Linked DNA regions of Homo sapiens. The protein of the gene in region 2 purifies or fractionates together with the protein of the main gene of each other region. This does not show direct contact. Each region holds a gene or a part of one and is shown on either strand. Other genes may lie near its edges. The genes, in order: CEP170, KIF23 and PHLDB2.

Region 1 (3,654 bases), on a different chromosome or scaffold from region 2:
TGAGGAAAAGGTGCTTATAGGAGGAAATGAGGTTGCATAGAGATTTTATTCATTGATTTTAAGTGCTATGAGCATTCATTGGAGGATTTTGAGCAAAGCCAAAAAATTGGGTTATATTTTTAAAGAATGGCTCTGGGAATTCTTTAAAACACTGGGAACCATGAGATAAGCTAGGAAATGATTGGAATGATCTGGTTTAAGAGACATTAATGGCTTAGACTAGAGCGACAGTAGTGGCAATAGTGAAAGTTACTAGTTTCTGGCTTTAGAGAGTCAAATGTTTTGGATATGTTAAGTTTGAAGTGTCTGTTAAACGCCCAAGTGGACACATCAGGTAGGCAGTTAGATATGTAAGTCAAGCATTCAGAGGAGAGGTTTGGACTGAGGATAGTTAAATGTTAAGCATCACCAGTAGACTTAAAGGGATCTCTTGGCTAGGGAGTTAGACTGAGAAGAGATCCAAGAATTGAGAATTGGTACTTTCCACATGGAAAGCTGAGCAAAAGAGAAGGCGCCATCGAGGAGGATTGAAAAGTGGACAGTGGGGTGTGAGGAAACTGAAGAGTGTGTTGTCCCACAAGCCAAGTAAAGGAAGTATTTTTAGAGATAAGGAGTGATCAGTCCCCTGTATCACCTTTAATCACCTAAATACTTCATAAGAAATCAGGCAGTATCCTCTTTCTTTCTGAATGGTCTCTGAGAAAGCAATTTCCTTTTTTAAATCTGGTTTATCAACATGAATGTTCACAGTTATTCTCCCCTGGCAACTACTAAATCTAAAGCCCTGAACAAAGTTTTACTCATAAAGAGGCCAATGCTGTTTCCTACGTGGATGAGTATGGCAGCTGCTGCTGCCTCTGATGTTTGAACAGGAGAAGCGATGCTGTTTCATAGGAAGAATTTATCAGGAAGCTAGTGATAGTCCAGCTACCTCAGAGGTTTATTGTGGTAGCCAAACGAGGTAGATGTAAAAACCAAATGAAAGGTATAATTGCAGATAGGGGTCTCCTTCCCTTATTGCCCCAAGTGTGGTACCAACTTGATAGTGTTAGATTTGAAGAACTATGTTGGCAAATAAAAATATTTTTCATTTTGAGTCTGTAGGAATAGTTTTTTACTTCCTATGCACTCTATCCCGATAGGCAGTTTCGCACATCATTTTATAATATTCTTGAGGGTAGAGAAAAGGGCTAGAAAGAGGATAAGAACAACCAGGGCAGGCGCGGTGGCTCACGCCTGTAGTCCCAGCACTTTGGGAGGCCGAAGCGGGTGGATCACCTGAGGTCAGGAGTTCGAGACCAGCCTGGCCAACATGGTGAAACCCCGTCTCTACTAAAAATACAAAAATTAGTCAGGCGTGGTGGCGCAGGCCTGTAATCCCAGCTACTCAGGAGGCTGAGGAAGGAGAATTGCTTGAGCCCAGGAGATGGAGATTGCAGTGAGCCAAGATCACGTCACTGTACTCCAGCCTGGGCAACAGGGTGAGACTCCATCTCAAAAAAGAAAGAAAAGAACAACCAGGCTTTGAGATAATAGCTTTTTTTCCCAATCCTAAACTCATCCTTTAATTCTAAACAGTGTCTAAATAAAGAGAATTGAGGTAGAAAAGTAAGCAAGTTAAAAGGCTTCCTTACTTTTTTTTTCCCTAGGCCAGCCAGGAAGACTTTCTTCTTTTAACTGACTTTTTTCTGGAAAGTGTTCAACTGAGTAATGGTTTGTCACATGTTACATGGAATAGAAAAAGTGCAAATTCAAAGCTTAGGGACTGGTTAGGGGTTTTGAACTCTAGGCAGCCAGCTAGAAACTGATTTGAGGAAGCAGGAGGGTGGGGGAAATGAGTCTGCTTGATGATAATAGGGGTAAAGTGCAAAATACTTATTTTGGTGAAAAAGGAACATCGCAAATACAGGACTTTTTGTGGTAAGCTTTTTGAGGCAATAGGACTATAACTTCACAATACATAGGTATCTTGCAGACCTTATATAATATGATTTGCTATGGCTGGTCATTAAATACTTCTCCTTGGATAAAAAATGCATATAATGCATTGCAAATTGAAGGCCATTTTATTTTTTATATTACAAATCTAATCCTAATACATGGCAGAAAATTTAGAAAACAAGATTTTCTACCATTAAGTACTATCATAATCCCACTAGCCAGTAACCCTGTTATGTATTCTTGTCTATTCTGGTTTAATTTGGTAACATTTTATCATGAAGTTAAACTTTCTGGCTCTAACTTTTAATGTGGCATAGAATCTGTCTTCTCAAACATGTAATCTACTTACACACAATTTATGAAAATTAAATGTATTTTTAAAATTGTAAACAACAGGCCGGGCCCAGTGGCTCATGCCTGTAATCCCAGCACTTTGGGAGGCCGAAGCCAGCAGATCACTTGAGGTCAGGAGTTCAAGACCAGCCTGGCCAACATGGGGAAACCCTGTCTCTACTAAAAATACAAAAATTAGCTGAGCGTGGTGGTGCACACCTGTAATCCCAGCTACTCGGGAGGCTGAGGCAGGAGAATCGCTTTAATCCAGGAGGCAGATGTTGTAGTGAGCTGAGATTGCTCCACTGCACTCCAGCCTGGGTGGCAGAGCGAGACTCTGTCTCAAAAAAAAAAAAAAAAAAAAAAAGTAAACAACACTGTAATGGACATTTCTAACTCTGAATTTCTGTGCAAATCAATGTTTTTCTTTGATTTCAACAAATTATGCTTAAAATACAATGCAGATACAAATGCAGAATTCTACTAATTAAACCTTTTCTAACTTTTTAATAAAATTACCCCCTCCAGTTTATATCAGTTTATTCTTCTACCACTGGCATATGAAACTGTGTGTTTCTTCACCCCTTCATCAGTGCTGAATATTACGTATCTTTTTTAAAATTTGCTTTCTTTTTTCTTTTTTTTTTTGAGACGAGGTCCCGCTCTGTTACCCAGGCTAGAGTGGAGTGGTGTGTTCATGGCTTGCTGCAGCCTTTACCTCCTGGGCTCAAGGGATCCTCTCCGCTCAGTCTCCCAGGTAGCTGGGACTGTAGGCATGGGCTGCCATGCCCATCTAAGTTTTTTTGTTTTCTTTTCTTTTTTGTGTTTTTTTTGTTTTGTTTTTTGTTTTTTGTTTTTTGTTTGTTTGTTTTGTTTTCTTGAGATGGAGTCTTGCTCTGTCGCCCAGGCTGGATTGAAGTGGCGAGATCTCGGCTCACTGCAACCTCTGCCTCGCGGGTTCAAGCAATTCTTCTGCTTCAGCCTCCTGAGTAGCTGGAATTACAGGCACACACCACCACACCTGGCTAATTTTTGTATTTTTAGTAGAGACGGGGTTTCACCATGTTGGTCAGGCTGGTCTTGAACTCCTGACCTCGTGATCCGCTCACCTTGGCCTCCCAAAGTGCTGGGATTACAGGCGTGAGCCACCGCACTGGCCAAGGTTTTTTATTTTTTTATAGAGACAAGGTCTCATTTTGTTCCCTAGGCTGGTCTCAAACTCCTGGGCTCTAGCAGTTTTCCTGTCTCAGCATCCCAAAGTGGTGGGGTTACAGGCATGAGCCACCCAATCTGGACAGTTTTGCCACTTTGATGAACAACAACCAAAAAAAAAAACCTTATTTAAATTTCTTTTATCAATAACACTTGACATTTTTTTAA
Region 2 (3,654 bases):
TTTTCTTTTCCAGTCGTTCTATTTCCAATTTCTGTCCTGAGATCATCTTCTCCTTTTCATTTAGTTTCCCTTGCATGTGGTTTTCTTTACTTAAAACAGCATTGTCAAATTCTTGTAACAAAGCTTTAAAAGCATTAGCTGAAACAAAAACATACAGGTCAAGTTTTACACCAGTTCTAAAACAAACAATGATATCAACTTTTGCTAGCAGACACTAGATAAAATGTAGTTATTCAGCAAATCTCTGTGAGAATCAGTCTATAATGAGAAAACAAGTTTAGAGGGAAATCAGGAGCTTCATTCTCCAGTTGACAAGATATTCACAGAAGCTTTCTGTTAAATGCTGAAAAAATACTCAAGTCTTTCACTGTGCACTATAGCATTCTCTTCCCAATCCTTACAGGTACTTTGCTTCACAACAACAAACGCAAAAATAGAAACAACACTACTATTTGGGATTAATTAAACCTGAGCTGAAATCCTTGGAACATCACTTACTAGTTATGACTTAGGCGAGTTAATTAATATTTCTGGGCAAATTTCATTTCAGTATGGAAATTTAAATACCACTTTATCTCACAACTTTTTGGTAAAGATTCAAATGAATAATGATAATAAAAATAGTAGAGCCAGGCATGGTGGCTCACGTCTGTAATCCCAGCATGTTGGGAGGCCAAGGTGGGTGGATCACGATGTCAGGAGTTTGAGACCAGCCTGACCAACATGGTGAAACCCCGTCTCTACTAAAAATACAAAAATTAGCAGGGCGTGGTGGTGTGCACCTATAATCCCAGCTACTCAGGAGGCTGAGGCAGGAAAATCGCTTGAACCCAGGAGGCGGAGGTTGCAGTGAGCCGAGATTGCGCCATTGCACTCCAACTTGGGCAACAGAGCGAGACTCAGTCTCAAAAAAAAAAAAAAAAAAAAAAGTAGATACATTCATTCACTGAGATACATTCACTATGTACCAGAATTTACTGTTCTACAGGATTTTCATACTTTATCTTATTTATCTTCACAACATATCCTGAGGTAGAAACAATTACAATCCCCACTATGTAGACAGGGGAAACTAAAAAATATTTCTTTGTGTCTCCATCACTGTAAAAAACAAAAGAAAGAACACACGCTCACTTTTTTCTTTTTGACTTCCTTAGAATACAAAAAAGAGCTGTGGAAAAATGCCTTGTCATACTAATCAAACAATGCCTTGAGTGCTTCAAAGTTCTAAAGACACAATTTTCTTTAACTTCCTTAAATATGCAATCTACCATATAACTCAGATTCATTGAAAATACTTTCAATTTCAGAAGTTACAATTATTGCAAATTGGCTGGGAGTGGTGGCTCATGCCTGTAATCCCAGCACTTTAGGAGGCCGAGGCAGGCGGATCACTTGAGGTCAGGAGTTTGAGACCAGCCTGGCCTACATGGCGAAACCCCGTCTCTACTAACAGTACAAAAATTAGCCAGGCGTGGTGGCATGTGCCTGTAGTCCCAGCTACTCGGGAGACTAAGGCAGGAGAATCGCTTGAACCCAGGAGGCGGAGGTTGCAGTGAACCGAGATTGTGCCACTGCACTCCACCCTGGGGTACAGAGTGAAACTATGTCTCAAAAAAAAAAAATAATTAAATAAAATTATTTCAAATAGTTTTGCCCTTACATTGTTTGTTAAACTCATCAATCATCATTTGTCGTAAGTTATGTCGTTTCTCTAAGGCTTCAATCAGCCTTGGAAGTGTCTGCTCATCGTTGATATCCAAAATTTCGCATGATGGCAAAGGTGGAAAACTCTGCAAAACCACGTCAGTAACCAATGGTTCTGTATTGAATTATAGAAAATTACAAAAAGTTACATAGGAGAGAAAGAGCTTATTTAAACAAGTTTAACACTGCATACAGCCCCAGTGCAACTAACCATTGCAATTTCTTGAGCTGACATAAGTTTACTTACCTAAGAATCATAGTATGCAAAATAAGCTCATTTAAATTTTGTTCAAATTATTATGTGCTTGGTTCTTCAGAAGGTATGTAAACATTTCTCTTAAATGAAATAATTTTTTTTAAAAAAGAGAGAAACAGACAGACCAATGAGTGGACAAATGATACAACACCAAATCATACCATTTCCAACTGGACCTCGAGGCTGGTTTCTGTATCTCCTCCCAGGCGTTAAACCACATATTGCCTTGTCTACAGGTCTTGCTACTTCAACTTCTTGAGTCACTTCCGCAAATCTCATGACTTGCTAAAACACAAAACAAATGGAGTTTAAAAAAAAATAAGGATATCCAAGTCCCAGAAATTACTAAATGAAGCAAAGATTGCTTATTTTTATTTATTTGAGACAGTCTGTCACCAGGCTGGAGTGCAGTGGCATGAACACGACTCACTGCAGCTTCGACCTCCCAGGTGGGCCCAATTGATCGTCCCACCTCAGCTTCCCAACATGTTGGGATTATAAGCATAAGCCACCACACCAAGCCTAGTTTACTTCTACAATCAATGGTTCTCTATCCATTTTTAAAATATTCAAAATGTCATTCTGCTCATCCAAGTAACTGTTTTCCCGACAAAAACTCAAGACTTTATAGGACAAATACATTAAAATTACCAAGTTTTCTTCATAATCTTCAGCCTTGGGGTTCACACACACGATCATCCGCACTTTTCCTTCCCCATCAAAGTAGTTCTTGAACAGATGGGTTAACTTTGAATCTCGATATGGAACCATCTACAAAGACATTCATATCCAAATGTGTTACGCAAAAAAAATGCACACAAATGAAACTATACAAAAGAACAGAGAAGGCTGCTGCTTACCTTGTTAGTTCCATACATTTGGTTCTCTCTTAGGACATCCATACATGTTCTTAGCGTCATTAGTGACTGATTAATATTACCTGACAGAAAAAAATACATAGACGCCATTTCAGAACAACAGTATAGTAGCTAAAGTGTGTTCTGTTTGCCTATAAAATCTCAACTTCAAACAACTACTAGATAGAAATTATAAATAACAAATTTTTGTGGCTCAATATAAAGAGCTGTCTATGCATGGTCCAGGCTCTCTTTCAATAGCAGTATTTCTGGGAAGGTTAAACAGCCATCCTTCAGGGATTCTACCAACAGGATTTTCCACAAAATGCAACATTACAGTTAATGACTATAAGGTTTCTTCCAAATCCTAAATTCTCTGAAGGAATATCTTATATAGAGATGTTTAATATCCTCATATTAAAATATATTCTCTAGGCAATTGACAGGAATCATGGCGACCCCCAGGCCACCGTCCCGCTTCTGGGGGTGGGGGAAGAATATCGTCTGTGTGGGGAGGAACTATGGGGACCACACCAGGGAGATGCCAACGCGGTGTTGAGCGAGTCCGTGCTGTTTCTGAAGCTGTCCACGGCCTACACACCTGAGGGCTCGCCCATCCTCATGCCCGCGTACAGCTGCAACCTGCACCACGAGCTGGAGCTGGGCATGGTGATGGGCAAGCATGGCCGCGCAGCTATGGACTACGTGAGCAGCTATGCCCTGTGCCTGGACATTACTGCCAGGGACGTGCAGGATGAGTGCAAGAAGAAGGGGCTGCCTTGGACTCTGGCCAAGAGCTTTATGGCCTCCTGCCCAGTCAGCGCGTTCGTGCCC
Region 3 (3,654 bases), on a different chromosome or scaffold from region 2:
CTACTAGATTGGCCACTGTAATAAAAATAACATCCTAACGTAACCATTTCCTTTATTAGATCTTTTGGCCAGAGTTATTAAAAAAAAAGCATTGATTAAAATTAAATTAAACTTAGTCAATTGTTTATCTTGACTTGTTCAAGTTATTTCCCTTCTTTCAAGCAGTAAGTGGTCAAAAGGTAGATAGCATGGAAGGGAAAAATTAAGTGTTTTATAATACTCATTCTGCACAATCAGCTGCTAAGTAATGAAGATATGATATTATCATAATTATTATTTTTACTTTACAATATTTTAGAAACCTACCCCACCCACTCATTTTTTTTTTTTTTTTTTTTTTTTGGAGACAGAGTTGCTCTGTCACCCAGGCTGGAGTACAGTGGTGCGATCCAGCTCACTGCAACCTCGGCCTCCCAGGTTCAAGTGATTATCCTGCCTCAGCCTCCCGAGTAGCTGGGATTACAGGCATGCACCACCACACCCAGCTAATTTCTGTACTTTAATAGTGATGGGGTTTCGCCATATTGGCCAGGGTGGTCTCAGACTCCTGACCTTTGGTGATCTGCCCACCTCAGCATCACAGAGTGCTGGAATTACAGGCATGAGCCACCGAGCCCGGCCTCATGTACTCAATTTGTGATGTAAAGCGAAATGCATTACAAACATGGAAGATGTGGTTGACCTGTGTTTGTTCCACCTCTTGTGAGCCTGTTTGTACCCTGACTATTCCCAGTTCATAAATCTTGGGTTAGGGAATGGGAATTCCAGCAAGTATTTAGGTCTGGGGAATGTTACTTTGGAAAAATTAAATATTACTCTTAAGGGAGTGTCTTTTGATCAGTAGTGTGGGATGGGGCAGGATGGCGGCAAGATCGGAGAGTTTCCCTCCCATACACTCTCCTCAGCTTCCAGTTAAAGTCCACGGAGGTGGTTTCAGGGTCAAGAGAGAGCATCTTTATCTACATATGATCCCCAGGTTGATAATTCTCTTGCTTGAAATTAGCTTTGAGATCAAAAGATCAGAGGGTGCTTTTCCCTGTAGCACTCCTGTGATTAAAGAAGAGTATCTGAAGTTAGTTATCCCATGATTCTGCACTTCACTGGGTGATTACGTAGTAAAGGAAGACCCTTCTAGCTTTACGGGGGACTTGATCAGGATCCTTGGTTAGGATTCTGTGAAGAACTTGACCTAAAGAGCTCCTCCACTCTCTTCCTTAACATAAGTTTCTAAGGGGTGTGTGTGTGTGTGTGTGTGTGTGTGTGTGTGTGTGTGTGTATTTTAACCTTTTAATTGAGGCTGGAATTCTTGATATGGAGGGTTTGACAGTTTTATGAAGAAATCATTATTTGGGCACGCAGTGGTGACACTTAGCTACCCCACATAACGTTATCTTGCAAATATCTTAAATGTGATGGCCTGCTTACTTGTTATCTTGAAAATGTATTTGCTTTCAAACTTCTCCCAGTTACTTAAAAATACATGTATCAGCTTTTAGGAACTTAATTCAGTATGATAAAGAGTTAGTATTTTATACTTAAAAAAAAAATCAGCTAGGAGCCAGTGATATGACCCCAACCTTCTTTGTAAAGTCAGCTACTATAATTTTTAAGGCAGTATACACATTTTATTGATGTTGACTTGCAGAATGCACGTAGCTTTTTTAAAAGATACTTTATCATGAAAAATATTAAACTACACAAAAATTTAAATGTATACTAAAATAATAATAAAATAATAAACAAAGATCAATGTACTTATCACCCAGCTTCAACAATTATTTATATATGCTAATCTTGTTTCATTTGTAAACCTCACTTTACCCTAAAACATGGATTGTTATAAAGCAGATTCCAAACATCATCATATTTCATTCGTAAATAATTTACAATGTAACTCTAAGAGTATTTTTAAGATATATCATCATCACACTTTTAAAAAACCACAGCATTATCATCTAGTTTCCAGTCTGAAATTCTCTGATTGTCTCATATGTCTTTTTTTAATTTTAATTTTTATTTTTTTGAGATAGGGTCTTGCTCTGTCACCCAGGCTGGAGTACAGTGGCACTATCTTGGCTTACTGCAGCCTTGGTTTCCTGGGTTCAACTGATCCTCTCACCTCAACCTTCCCAGTAGCTGGGACTGCAGGCTTGTGCCGCCATGCCTGGCTAATTTTTGTATATTTTGTAGAGATGGGGTCTCACCATGTTGCCCAAGCTGGTCTCGAATCCTGGGCTCCAGTGATCTGCCTGCCTCGGCCTCCTAGAGTGCTGGAATTACAGGCCTGAGCTACTGCTCCCAGCTCATACTTTTAAAAAAAAATGACAGGATCTTGCTGCGTCACCCAGACTGGAGAGCAGTGGCATGATCATGGCTCACTGCAGCCTTGCCCTCCTGGGCTCAAGTGATCCCCCTGCCTCCACCTCTGCCTCTCCGCCTCTGCCTCCTGAGTAGCTGGAAATACAGGCATGCACCACCATGCCTGGCTAATTTTTTAAATTTCTGTAGAGATGGGGTCTTGCTGTGCTGGTCAGGCTGGTCTCAAACTCCTAGGCTCAAGCAATCCTCATGCCTCGGCCTCCTGAAGTGCTGGGATTATGAGCCTCAGCCACCTTGCCTAGCTTCATACATTGTAAAAAATAGATGGATTGTTCAAAACAGGATCCAAAACCATGTCCACACATTGCATTTAATTGGTATGCGCCCTCAGTCTCTTTAATCGAGAATACTTCTCTCTTCCTCTTGTTTTTTTTTCCCCCTTGCCATTTGCTTATTCATGAGTCTTCCTCCCACCCCTGGGGACTTTCCCATATTTTAGAATTAGGTAATTGCATTTCTGTCTTTTTTTTAAAAAAAATATTATTCTCTTCCTTGTATTTTCTGTAATCACAGACAGCACACTTTTAATTTGTGTTGAGCTGAATTTATATATATATATATGTGTGTGTATATATATTTCAATACTTATTGATATTGTCTCCTTTAAATATTGGTAAAGCTCCTTTAACACAAATGTGAGCCTAATTGAAGAAATCACACCTTGATGATTTATGTAAAAGTAAGGAATTTTGCAAGTGTGAGGAAACTAATGACACAAAAGTTTATTGAGGTTGCTTCTGCTTTCTGTCCTCCCCCAACCTGTCCTCTTCACTGGCTGAAGAGAGTTATCACAGGGAACATGCAGCTAAATTACTTGCAGAGTCTAAAGAATATTTTAAAGTTCCTACAGACTAGTCTTACTCAAGGGACTAGCACAAAACTTTTTAAAAAATCCCTATGATTGATGGCTTACCCTCTTTACTAAGAGACCTATAAGATTTCTAACAATTCCTAACGTAAAACAATGTAGACTGATTTAAAAGTAGCCTCTGCTCACAGGAGATGAAGATCCTCATTTGAAATATGGTTATTGCTGTTGATTGTGATTACTTTTAGGAACCTTCGAATACCATCTGGAATTTTTTTTTTCTTCTTCTTCTTTGACAGAGCTCAGACTTCAATACAGCTAGGGATAACAGAAGGGAATCGTAGCCTGGGGTTACACTCTTTTATTGTGACAGGAAGAAGCTGGAACTTCTTTCATATTGTGCTCCACTCCTTCCATCTGCACTTAATGTTCTCATTATCCCCCATCACTCTCCACTTCCTTCTGGG

Evidence for each region.
Region 1: the proteins of KIF23 (region 2) and CEP170 purify together in Homo sapiens (affinity purification with mass spectrometry; 2 studies listed by BioGRID and IntAct, with this or other methods). This does not show direct contact.
Region 3: the proteins of KIF23 (region 2) and PHLDB2 purify together in Homo sapiens (affinity purification with mass spectrometry; 2 studies listed by BioGRID and IntAct, with this or other methods). This does not show direct contact.

The regions. Positions count from the first base shown.
Region 1 is NC_000001.11:243,245,214-243,248,867, reverse strand, and holds part of CEP170 (centrosomal protein of 170 kDa), read left to right. Parts: intron 1-3,654.
Region 2 is NC_000015.10:69,434,732-69,438,385, reverse strand, and holds part of KIF23 (kinesin-like protein KIF23), read right to left. Parts: intron 2,904-3,654; coding exon 2,824-2,903; intron 2,735-2,823; coding exon 2,615-2,734; intron 2,249-2,614; coding exon 2,125-2,248; intron 1,823-2,124; coding exon 1,664-1,822; intron 139-1,663; coding exon 1-138.
Region 3 is NC_000003.12:111,865,697-111,869,350, forward strand, and holds part of PHLDB2 (pleckstrin homology-like domain family B member 2), read left to right. Parts: intron 1-3,654. UniProt on the Homo sapiens protein: Seems to be involved in the assembly of the postsynaptic apparatus. May play a role in acetyl-choline receptor (AChR) aggregation in the postsynaptic membrane.